Regions from separate parts of the Homo sapiens genome. Here all the other regions are linked to region 2. Evidence: fine-mapped expression QTL. A gene starts in region 2. Each other region holds a variant in brackets. All regions are shown on one strand. Distances are between the middles of the regions.

Region 1 (4,122 bases), 23 kb before region 2:
ATACACTGATCAGCCCAGACTCTCTAAGGATTTCAACACCTGTTTTTAGTCTTCCTGCCTGATTCCTGCCATCAGGTAATTCCAACAAGCATGGCTCATTCAACATCATAGCACAGCAGTTTTCAAGTGTTAGGGAGCCTAGGAACCACTCAGGGAGCTTGTAAAAATACGGAATTCTGGTCCGTCCCCCAGAGATTCAAACTTAGTAGGTTTGGCTGGGGCCCAAGAGTGTGCATTTCGCATAGGTGGTTCTGAACTCTGCCTTGACCTCAGTTCCTGACTTCAATTCCAATGCCTTCGACATAATTCAGCAGCTTGCTCACATGGCCACACCCTAGATTCACCTGGAACTTCTCTGCCTCTGAGAACCTAAATTCCAATGTCCTTTTCCCTGATCCCCTCCCATCCCCAGTACACATGGACCTCCAGTTCCAGCTCCTCAGGCAGTTTGTTTTCTTCCAGCCCTTCAGCCCCTCTTGCACCTATATTTGAACTTAGGCTCAATCCCTTGAACTACTTACCACCTGTTAGCTTCCTGATCCCCTGACCCCCTTGACCTCCAGCCTTAACCTACCAACCTTCAGACCTACCTGAACCAACCTGACAGTCTCCTACCTCACGGGCAGGGCTGAAGAAAACTGCTGTGTCATATGACTCAGGGCTGCGATGGTTCAGGCCATCCCAAGTCCCTGATACCAGTGCTTGGCAGTTCCGTTTTGCTGAGGCCCCATCTCATCTGCAGTTGTTATTCCAAACCTCAAGCCCCAACGTCATTTCCTTTACTTTCAACAAATATCCTTCTTAGAGAAAACAATTTCTGTGACTACCTACCCCTCTACATATTTTGCAATTTTCCTCAGCCTAAGAGCAAATTCCAGCATCTCCCTGCCTTAAAAACTTCCTGGCCGGGCACAGTGGCTCACGCCTGTAATCCCAGCACTTTGGGAGGCCAAGGCAGGCGGATTGCCTGAGCTCAGGAGTTCGAAACCAGCCTGGGCAACAAGGTGAAACCCTGTCTCTACTAAAAATACAAAAAATTAGCTGGATATGGTGGCGGGTGCCTGTAATCCCAGCTACTTGGGAAGCTGAGGCAGGATAATCACTTGAACCTGGGAGGTGGAGGTTGCAGTGAGCTGAGATCGTGCCACTGCACTCCAGCCTGGGTGACAGAGTGAGACTCTGTCTCAAAAAAAAAAAAAAAAAAAGAAAGAAAGAAAAAAATCTTCCCTTGACCTTGTGCCATTTTCTAGACTCCATTCTGCCTTTATCTCAACACAATCTAGTTTCCTGAAAGGCTGTCTCCAAAGGTGTGGTAGATGGCATTTCAGTTTCCAGTTATTCATCTCTCACTGTAAACATACCGTTCACCCTGTGACTGTGCATCACTTCAATGGAGGCGAGGTATATTTTCCCACGCCACTGATGTTGCTGGTCTAAGGGAGATGAAAGGCACATGGAGCCACCTGGATCCCACTCACAGCTTGGAAGTCAACCCAGCCCAGCAGAGCCCAAGCTAGATCAGCTAAAGCTCAGCCTGCCCACAGATGCATGAGCAAGATACATGCTTATGATTGTAGGCTTCTGAGTTTTGAACTGGCTTCTTATGCAGCATTACTGCAATAATAGTTAACAGTGACAGAGGGAAACAGAATATTAATGATGCTGGAAAGACATGATGGATGAGTGACTAGCTATTTACAAAAGAGCAATTTAGACTCGTGCCTCACAGAATCCACCAAAATAAATTCTACCCGAATTAAAGGGTTAAGGATATAAAATTAAACCACAGAAAATTAGAAGAAAATGAAAGACATGTTCAATCTGGATAGCAGAGGATTTTCTAAAGCTAAAAATAACAAATGCGTCATTCTAATTTTCCTTAATAGGCGTATGTTATTCTTAAAGGCATTTATTATTCCTATTATTCCTTAAAGGCATACATTATTCAGAAAAAAGCAACAGAAGATCTAACAAGGGAAATAATTACTGTTTTAGTTACTTTAAAATTTAAATCCTTGGCCGGGCGCCATGGCTCATGCCTGGAATCCCAGCACTTTGGGAGGCCGAGGCGGGTGGAGGCCGAGGTGGGTGGATGACGAGGTCAAAGAGATTGAGACCATCCTGGCCAACATGGTGAAACCCCGTCTCTACTAAAAATACAAAAATTAGCTGGGCGTGGTGGCGCGTGCCTGTAGTCCCAGCTACTTGGGAGGCTGGGGCAGGAGAATAGCTTGAACCTGGGAGGCAGAGGTCACAGTGAGCTGAGATCA[C/T]GCCACTGCACTCCAGCCTGGTGACACAGCAAGACTGTCTCAAAAAAGAAAGAAAGAAGAAAGAAAGAAAGAAAGAAAGAAAGGAAGGAAGGAAGGAAGGAAGGAAGGAGAGAGAGAGAGAGAAAGAAAGGAAGGAAGGAAGGAAGAAAGAAAGAAAGAAAGAAAAAGAAAGAAAGAAAGAAAGAAAGAAAAAGAAAGAAAGAAAGAAAACCTCAGGCGGGCATAGTGGCTCATGCCTGGCATCCCAGCACTTCGGGAGACTGAAGCAGGTGGATCACTTGAGGCCAGGAGTTCAAGGCCAGCCTGTCCAAAGTGGTGAAACCAAGTCTCTGCTAAAAATACAAAAATTAGCAGGGCATGGTGGCAGGCGTCTGTAATCCTAGCTACTTGGGCACTGAGGCACAAGAAATCGCTTGAACCCAGGAGGTGGAGGTTCCAGTAAGCCGAGATCGCCCCATTGCACTCCAGCCTGGGCGACAGAGTGAGACTCTCTCAAAAAGAAAAAAAAAAACGAACTTAAATATACTTGATCTTAGCCAAAAGGCCAAGGAGTGATTACAGACCTTAAATAAATGTGAAAACACAATGACCTCAATTAATAAATTAATAAATGGCTAATAAATATGAAAAAATGTGAAAACTCAAAAGAATCAAGAAAATCCAAGTATAGCCAGGCATGGTGGCTAACTTGCACCCAAAGTACAAGTAATCCCAGCACTTTGGGAGGCCAAGGTGGGAGGATCGCTTGAGCCCAGGAGTTCCAGACCAGCCTGGGCAACAGAGGGAGACCTCATCTCTACAAAAAATTTAAAAAATCAGCCAGGCTTGGTGGTACACGCCTGTGCTTCCAGCTGCTCAGGAGGCTGAGGTAGGAGGATCTCTTGGGCCTGGGAGGTAAAGGCTGCAGTAAACTGTGATCATGTCACTGCACTCCAGCCTGGGAGACAGAGACTCTGTCTCAAAAAAAAAAAAAAAAAAAAAGCCAGGGCGCGGTGGCTCACGCCTGTAATCCCAGCAATTTGGGAGGCAGAGGCAGGCAGATCACCTGAGGCTGGGAGTTTGAGACCAGCCTGACCAACATGGAGAAACCCTGTCTCTACTAAAAATACAAAAAATTAGCCGGGTGTGGTGGCACATGCCTGTAATCCCAGCAACTCAGGAGGCTGAGGTAGAAGAATCGCTTGAACCTGGGAGGCGGAGGTTGTGGTGAGCTGAGATTGCGCCACTGCACTCCAGCCTCAAGAGCGAAACTCCAGCAACAAGAGTGAAACTCCGTCTCAAAAAAAAAAAAAAAAAAAAAGAAATAAAGAAAATGCAGTTAAACAACGAGATTTGATTTTCACTTAACCAAAATGCCAATATTAAAAACAAGAATAAAATCCTGAAGTTCTAAGAATATGGGAAGTTGAGTATTCATACATGGTTTGTAGGGACATCAAATTTGTATAATTTTCTGGAAAGCAATTACCAATATGCATCAAGGCCTTAAAAATGTTCATATCTGTTTACTTAGTAATTCTGTTTTAGGGATCAGCCCAAAAGATAAACTCTGAAATATATTAAAAATTTGAAGGCCCAGGGTTACTGGTAATGATGAAACTCTACAAACAACCTAGAGATCTTGCAACAAAAGTTAGGTTCTGTGGAACTCAGTGTTCCTTTTAAATGGTATTTAAATTAGAAATCAATGCAGTACGTGATCCTGAATTGGATCCTGGACTAGAAAAAAAGACACTGGGGAACAACTGTCAACATCAATAAAGACTATAGGTAGGTTATTAGAATTGTATCAAGGCTGGGCTCAGTGGCTCATGCCTGTACTCCCAGTACTTTGGGAGGCTGAGGCAGGTGG
Region 2 (4,122 bases):
GCCATGCATTTCACCTAGGGCGCTACTCCTTGAGCAAGGGGGAGACAGACACTGAGCAGAACTGTACTTGCTCTGGTGAGATCACACCTTGGGTGGGGACTTCCTAAAATGAGGTTCTTGGCCTGTAGGAACTGGAAGTACACTGAAGGGTTGGGGTGTCTGGGGAGCTAGCCCACCATAACGGCCACTAGTCCCCCTAAGTAACTCCTACTTAAACTATATTTACAGAAATAAACATACATAGTGTGTGTATGGGGGGCAGTTTTTAAAAATCTGTCTTTTTTTTTTTTTTTTTTTTTTAAATCTCTGTTTTGGGGCTGGACGTGGTGGCTCATGTCTGTAATCCTAGCACTTTGGGAGGCCAAAGTGGGCTGACTGCTTTGAGCTCAGGGGTTTGAGACCAGCCTATGCAACAACGTGAAAACCCATCTCTACAAAACAAACAAACCAAACAAAACAAACAAGCAAACAAACAAAATTAGCTGGGTGTAGTGGCACACACTTGTAATCCCAGCTACTCAGGAGGCTGAGGCCGGAGAATCACTTGAAACCAGGAGGAGGATGCAGTGAGCCGAGATGGCGCCACTGCACTCCAGCCTGGGTGACAGAGCGAGACCCTGTCTGGAAAAAAAAAAAAAAAAAAAAAAGGACATTCAGTGGTGGTGTGGTGCTGACCTATAGCTATTAACATGAGATAAGCACTTTAAACAGAGTTGGTCAACTACTGGCAGCCTTGGTGTCATGGAAAGAACTTGGACTTTGGAACCACAGAAACTCAGGCAAGGCTCGGTAATGTTTCTCTTTTTAAATTGAGACAAGGTCTCTCTATGTTGCCTAGGCTGGGTCTCCAACTCCTGGGCTCAAGCCATCCTCTGGCCTTGGCCTCCCAAAAGTGCTAGGATCGCAGGTGTGAGTCACCATGCCCAGGCTCCAGTAATATTTCAGAACTTCCTCAAAACTGTTTCCTCCTTTGCTACTGCATTCTTCACTGAGATGAGGGTTAAGACCTACCTAACAGTAGTAATCTACATCTCAATGTAGGACTTCTGAATTCTGACTTGAGGAAAGCACCTGCTTTCCTGGTTGAGTAATTATAAACAGAGATTCTAGGTTTGCATGTTTGCAGTTTTAAACTCGAAAAGTGCATTTATCTCAAAAACACAGAATTATCAAGGATTTTAATTACTGATTTATTTGTAATGTAAAAATGGGAAACAAACGGCCTCCAGTAGGAAATTAATTTAATCCGCATAGCCATGCAATGGAATACTTCACGGCATTAAGATTGTGCTTTTGAAGACTATTTAGTGAGAAGAAAAATGTTCATCATAAAACAGTAAAAAGAAGGGCAGTAAACAAAACACCATACAATATACCCCACTGTAGAAAAACAAAATACATACAGAAATGTAATAGCCAAAGAAGGACCCAAAGCGAACGCTTCCCCCTGGGAACTAGGAGGGGTGGAGAGAAATTACTTTCTTCCCTGCATTTCTGTGTCTTTTCTAGCTTCCTATCAGTATCATGTATTGCCTTTAAATCCGAAAATACCCCTGTGTTATTAGTGAGGCGTCGTCGGGGCTCTGAGAGGCGCGCGCGCCCGGGACAGACCCCTGCGCCCCCTGGCGGCGCCCTGAGGCCCCGCCCCACGAGGCCGGCGCGACGGGGCGGGGCGCGGAGCCCCAGCCGAGCCTAGCCCTGCCCGGCCCCGGAGGACTTGCAACACTCCGAGGCCAGGAACGCTCCGTCTGGAACGGCGCAGGCAAGCCAGGGGGCCGGGGCCGGCGCCGTTGGGGACTGTGGGCGGTGGGGACTGGTCCAGGGCTGGGGCGGCCATGCGCCGGGGCGCCTAAACTTTTCGGAGCGCGCTCCCGGCTTGCCCGCTCCTGGGCCCAAGGAGCCCGTTCCAGATGGGGATCTCCCCTCCTGGCCCTTGGCGTTTCGCTCTCCCTGGGCGCGCGGGTGGGCGGCCGGGTCTGTGGCACCTGGTTAGCCTTGGGAGCCCAGCAGCGTGTTGTGGGCACTGGTGAGCGGAGCCAGGGTCTGGGGGTGTCCTCGTGTTCCCTCTTTCGGGCACGAGTGGCCTCTCTGTCGCAGGGCCTATCCACCATGCCAGCCCGAGTGGCCAGCTGTGTGGGATGAGGGCTTTCATGGCCCTCAGCTGGTGAGAAGAGGGAAGAGGGAGGGGAGACAGCCAGGGCCTGGCACGGACCCCAGGTTGCCCCCACACGCGCTGAGGCCAGTCTCGGTGTAGACAGGTGAATATTTAAGGGGTGGGGAAGGGGGGGTCCTAGCTTGCAGCTGGGGCAGAAGCCAATGAGCAGCTCAAGTGTTTGGCATGGGGAAGTGGCCACCTCTATCACCATGACTTTGCCCTCTGCCAGTCCCACTTCCAGCCACTGTTTCCCGGCTGGGTTCACAGAACTACAGGGGAGTAACATCCTCCTCGTGACTTCTTTGGGTTAGAGTGAAAACAAAACAGAGAAACGGGAAAAGGGAAAGCAAGTGGAGAGACTGGGGCAGGAGCCAGGGACCAGTGGGAGGAAGCAGAGGGAGGCTGCTGGGAGGCCAGGCCCTGGCCTTGTGGGGTCGGCACCAATTCTTGTCCTATGGGGTCTCCATCTCCTCTCCCTCCTCTGTGGCCTCTACGTGGTACCCAGGAGTTTGGGGTTCTACCTGAGCACCCTGGACATGGGATAAGTAGGCCTGGGAACGCAGGTCAGAGCCAGATGTCATGGAAGGGCCCTCAGGTGTCCAGTTCTCTGGGCTCTGAAATATTCATCTCATTAGTGAGCTTTGGTTTCCAAGCTGGCGACTTTGGGCTGGCCAGTGGTGGCAGGGGAGCCAGGTGCCTCCTGGGGCTGCTTTATTGGCGCAAAGGGGGAGCCATACTTCCTTCTCACCTGCCTCCTCTCTCTGTCTCTCCAGTCATGAGGATCCAGAGAACCAGTTTATAGCTTAAATGGAAGAGGCAGGACCACAGTGTCAGGGGCCCTGTCTTTCTGTGCTATGACCTCAAGGCCTCACTTGTAAAAATGAGCCCTTCAGAGAGGTAATGATGGGTTATCCTGTAAGTGTTGGGAGAGCCTCATGTCATGAGCTGGGGTAATAGCCACCTGGGCTCAGCCTCCTCCCCTGGGAATGGGTGCCTCAGCCAGACGCTGTCTACCTCAGAGCACCTCCAACCGCAGGCCTCACCCTGGGCCTTTCAGAAAAAGCAGAAGCCACAGAGAAGGGAAACACACATACTTGTGTGTTTTCAGAGGGCTGAACTGGGACGACCAGAGAGTGGAAGCTCATACAATTCTCTGGGAAGAAGTTCTGCTAACAACATGTCTGATCATGACATGGGCCTTCTGGACCTATTCTGTTGGGGACACAGTGGAAGGGATGACCTTGACAGAATCTTCCAACCCTAAGATTCTGGGATTCTAGGCCAAAACCTGGGTCTTGTTTTGAAGTAGAAATGATATCCAGAAGTCGACAGGCTACAGTGGCAGGTACCTCCATTGGTGGGAAGGGAGATATTAATGAGCTCCCACTTTTGTCTGTAATGATTTGTGCTTTGCCCCGTTGCACAGAGGTGAGGTTAGGGGTGCCCGTTTCCTGGTTCTGTGGTAGCTGGATATGTCCCCCGGCCCTTGGCAGTAAATCCCACGGTGGGATAGCAGCTGTGTGGAATGGGGGAAGGGGAGGACCCTCGCCAGAGATCCTGGCACTGGGCTGACCCCCTGAGAGTGAGAGGGCATGTCTAGTACTTCATGTGACTGCTCTGAGGGGCAGCTGGGTGTACGCACAGAGGTTATAAGAGACGAGGAGTTAGGATATGAATGATTCTCAGGGTTGGGTGTCTGTAATACAAAGGTGGCCTGGGTCAGCATCCCACAGGGTGTTAATAGGTTTGCCTCGATAAAAGTGGCTCAGGCTTAAGGGAGTTTGAAGGAACACTGGGTTAAACAAAGCTGAACAGGGTTGCTTACTGCAGGACTTCTCAGGGGCAGAATATGCCATTGTGAATTTCCAAGAAGGGGGTGTGGATTGTTTCTCAAGAGTCATCTGTTTCCAGCACTCATTCATTAACGTCTCCTGGGGCGTGTTCTTTAGAACAGTCTGGGAAATGCC
Region 3 (4,122 bases), 42 kb after region 2:
TGCCTAGCTAATTCTGTATTTTTAGTAGAGATGGGGTTTCTCCATGTTGGTCAGGCTGGAGGTCTCCAACTCCTGACCTCAGGTGATCCGCCTGCCTCGGCCTCCCAAAGTGCTGGGATTACAAGCGTGAGCCACCGCACCTGGCCTTAAACTGCTTTTTGACAATGTCTGAAAACCCTCACCTACTGCTCAAGTCCTTGATCTCTTTCTCATCCTTTCAAATGACAGCAGAAACTAACTTGGTAGAAGAGCCCTCAAATGCAAGAGAGAGAGTGTAAAGCCCTAGGCGTACCACACCCACTAAAACTTTGCCTCAAGAGTACTGAGTGCTGGGCCAGGTGTGGTGGCTCATGTCTGTTATCCCAACACTTTGGGAGGCTGAGGTGGGAGGATCACTTGAGTCCAGGAGTTCGAGACCAGCCTGGACAACATGGTGAAATCCCGTCTCTACAAAAATACAAAAATTAGCCAGCTGTGATGGTGCATGCCTGTGGTCCCAGCTACTTGGGGGGCTGAGATGGGAGGATTGCTTGAGCCCAGGAGGTTGAGCCTGGCTGGGGATCACAGAGTACTGGGCTGGGCGCGGTGGCTCACTCCTTAATCCCAACACTTTGGGAAGCTGAGGTAGGTGGATCACGAGGTCAGCAGTTCAAGACCAGCCTGGCCAATATGGTGAAACCCTGTCTCTATTAAAAATACAAATAAATTAGTGGGGCTTAGTGGCGCACGCCTGTAGTCCCAGCTACTTGGGAGGCTGAGGCAAGAGAATTGCTTGAACCCAGGAGGCAGAGGTCGTAGTGAACTAAGATTGTGCCTCTGCACTCCAGCCTGTGCTTCAAGAGCGAAACTCTGTATCAAAAAACAAAAAACAAAAACAAAACAACAAAACAAAACAACAACAGTACTGGGGTGCTGGCAAATAACACTGGCTGTGAGGGAGGCTTATGACCTCAAGACTTTTAGTTCAACTGGTACAAAAGACAGCAGATGGGAGGCCGAGGTGGGTGGACTGCCTGAGCTCACGAGTTCTAGACCAGCCTGGGCAACATGGTGAAACCCCATCTCTACTAAAATACAAAAAATTAGCCGGGCGTGGTGGTGTGCACCTGCAGTCCCAGCTAGTTGGGAGGCAGAGGCTGCAGTGAGCTGAGATCGCGCCACTGCACTCCAGCCTGGGCGACAGAGTGAGACTCTGTCTCCCCCAACACCCCCACCAAAAAACAAACAAACAAACAAAAACCAGCAAATGAACACTATTACCTTATCTTAAGGACAGGACTGCCTGAATTTCATCAGAAGAACCAAGGTCTGGCACCTTTCACAAAGATGGAACTCTCTAGGCTCTAGGCCATGCTCGCCTTTCCTGCATGCAGAGCCACACCCCTATTTAGGGCTCTCCTCAAATTTTTTTTTTTTTTTTTGAGACTAAGTCTTACTCTGTCGCTCAGGCTGGAGTGCAGTGGCACAATCTTGGCTCACTGCGACCTCTGCCTCCTGGGCTCAAGCAATTCTCTGCCTCAGCCTCCCGAGTAGCCGGGACTACAGGCACCTGCCACCACGACCGGCTAATTTTTTTTGTATTTTTAGTAAAGATGGGGTTTCACCGTCTTGGCCAGGCTGGTCCTGAACTCCTGACCCTGTGATCCACCCATCTCAGCCTCCCAAAGTGCTGGGATTACAGGCGTGAGCCACAGCGCCC[G/A]TCACGGCTCTCCTCAATTCTATCCCTGATAAAGAGAACCTTCCTCTGCATGCAAACTTCCTGCTGAGAGTGGACCAGGAAAAAGAACACTTAGTGGGGTGGTTTCAGGCCTATTTACCCAATTAAAGGTCCCTAAGCAACTTACTCCATCTCTCCAGAAAGACCACCAAAAGCACAAGACTGACCTCATAACTCAGGCCCAAAAAGAACAGTCTCTTGGTAAACTTTGTTTATTTCCTAGCTGCCATTCTCATAGCTCACAAAGATACGGAAACAAGGAAACCCATCCTGGCCTATATGGCAGTGAGAACATGGAATCCCACCTTTGGTTTATCTACTTAGCCCTGCTGACCTCATATGTAGCCAGTGCCCAGATACATGGAGGACCAGGCCACCAGCGCCCACTGCTTCCTTCTCGGTGACTCAGGAGAGGAAGGTGGTCGCTGGGGTGCTGCCTAACTTACGTGATTGTTTTCATTTCTTTTTTCTCGGCATCTGGGCGTGCGCGGTTCAGCACCTTGAGGAAGTCAGACGTTTTCGCCCGCATACGTGTGTGAATATAGGCCTGGGAACAAACATAACAGGTACTAAAGCACAGTCATGGTCTAGAAAGACAGCTTTGCTGTCTTTCATCAGAGAGGTCATCAAGGGCGGTTGGGAACATACACCCTGGGATTGACCCAGGCCCTGCAGGGAAGCAGGAAGGTGAGCAATTCTGGAAACAAATATTCATCTCTGCTATAGGGAGGGATGGGGGACAGTGGCTTGATGAAGAAAGACCATGGTTTCTTGAAGCCTCTAGAATTATTTACCTAAGAGTCAATATCCACAGCGTAGACTAATGGAATGACTTTCTGTCAGGAGTTCTGGTGGAGGAAAAGACCCAGAGCATAGAGGCTGAGATGCTGGCACCCCCCTCACCTTAGAGCACTTGATGTGGTAGTGCAGGTAGTCCCGGAACGTGTGGATCAGGTTGATGGTGTTGTCTCGAGCACTGGCATTGGTGTGACGAGGGAACAGCACTGAAGGCGGAAGACACAAACAAGGCGTCAGGACACGACACAAATGCCAAAGGGTGGGGAAGAACAACAGCCTAGTGAACATCACTCCCTCTCTGCTTAAGTACACTCCACTTGTGTCAGTATTACCAGGCTTTGTCAGGGTTTTTTCTTGACATGGAAGTTAAACAGCATGGCCAGGAAAGGTGTCAACGAGCGTGAATGGAGGAGCCCACGATGAAAAACAGGGCTTGACCCTAGGCCTTCATTCTACTCCTGAATTCTGCAGCTGTGCATTTTGAAATCTATTTCCGGTCTGCCACACAGGTACTAGCTCTTGCCTCTGCAGCTGGACACACTCCAGGATCACACTAACTGGCTGTAACAGTTTACTTTAAGGAATCAGGATTAGGAAATGCAGCTGCCTGTCTTAGGTCCTTGGTGCTGAAATAGAGTAAACCTTCCCAGAAAACAGATGCCAGAGAATTTCCCATATTCTCACTGTGAAAACAGACAATAAGGTGTAAGGACCTGAACCCTCATGATAGGCCAGGCAGGAGGAGCTGCTCTGAATGGGCCTGACTGAAGTCCACCCTGTGACACCAGCCACCTAAAGACCTGTGTGAGGCTGGGCGCGATGGCTCACGCCTGTAATCCCAGCACTTTGGGAGGCTGACGCAGGCTGATCATCTGAGATCAGGAGTTTTGAGACCAGCCTGGCCAACATGGTGAAACCCCATCTCTACTAAAAATATAAAAATTAGCCACATGTGATGGCGTGTGCCTGTAATCTCAGCTACTTAGGAGGCTGAGGCAGGAGAATCGCTTAAACCCGGGGGGTGGAGGTTGCAGTGAGCCAAGACGGTGCCACTGCACTCCAGCCTGAGTGACAGAGCAAGACTCCATCTCAAAAAAAGACCTGTGTGCTCATCACAAAGTCCTTTGCACTACAGCAGGCCTGCATGCCCCTCTTGCCCTGGTTTTCTGGAATCGTTTTTACCTGCTGCACCTCCTCTACTCACTATCTGCAAAACCCCGTCAGTTGTCTGAAGTTTTCGTTGAAATGAAAAGGAATGCCTCCTAAGGAAGTGTGGAATTTCTGTGTCAATGTGCCCTGGCCTGAAAGTAAATGAACACCACAACAGAAGACAACTATACTTCAAAGAATCTAAGGTGCTTATGACTGTAAGTCTGCCATAATTTTATGTACCACAAGAGAAACATGCTGCCAATTAAAGTGTGACATGCTATGAATTGTAAGATGCATCCCAGCTTCAAAGACAAAAACTTGAAAAAAATGGTATAGCTGGCTGGGCGCAGTGGCACACGCCTGTAATCCCAGCACTTTGGGAGGCTGAAGTGAGTGGATTGCTTGAGGCCAGGAGTTGAGATCAGCCTGGCCAACATGGAAACCCTGTTTCTTTT

Which allele goes with the higher level. Positions count from the first base shown, and alleles are read on the strand shown. Sizes are in standard deviations (SD) of each study's normalised expression. Not every link is listed here.
For the expression in visceral fat of the gene that starts at base 1,725 in region 2, A is the high allele of the variant in region 3 and G is the other (small effect, 0.18 SD a copy in GTEx).

Evidence for each region. PIP is the estimated chance that this variant, and not a neighbour inherited with it, causes the effect. A credible set is the group of variants that fine-mapping cannot tell apart.
Region 1: its variant is the best candidate, but not a certain one, in a credible set for the expression of TMBIM1 in whole blood (TOPMed, PIP 0.89).
Region 3: its variant is the best candidate, but not a certain one, in a credible set for the expression of TMBIM1 in visceral fat (GTEx, PIP 0.54).

What each region holds. Positions count from the first base shown.
Region 1 is chr2:218,313,352-218,317,473 of GRCh38, reverse strand. All of the region lies in intron 2 of PNKD (PNKD metallo-beta-lactamase domain containing), which reads right to left. The region is part of intron 1 of LOC105373881 (a long non-coding RNA gene); the gene reads left to right. It overlaps LOC105373880 (a long non-coding RNA gene), which reads right to left and starts at 724. Exons shown (of 2, transcript XR_923909.3): 1 at 591-724. The variant C/T (reference allele first, on the strand shown) is at 2,271.
Region 2 is chr2:218,290,106-218,294,227 of GRCh38, reverse strand. It overlaps TMBIM1 (transmembrane BAX inhibitor motif containing 1), which reads left to right and starts at 1,725. Exons shown (of 12, transcript NM_022152.6): 1 at 1,725-1,762. All of the region lies in intron 2 of PNKD (PNKD metallo-beta-lactamase domain containing), which reads right to left. RefSeq lists enhancers at 201-1,047, 1,230-2,192, 2,193-3,157, 4,077-4,122 and a silencer at 1,468-1,947.
Region 3 is chr2:218,247,963-218,252,084 of GRCh38, reverse strand. It overlaps ARPC2 (actin related protein 2/3 complex subunit 2), which reads right to left. Exons shown (of 11, transcript NM_152862.3): 9 at 2,621-2,721; 10 at 2,164-2,264. Among named protein-coding and RNA genes, the nearest start is that of TRY-ATA1-1, 4.2 kb to the right of the region's middle. The variant G/A (reference allele first, on the strand shown) is at 1,700.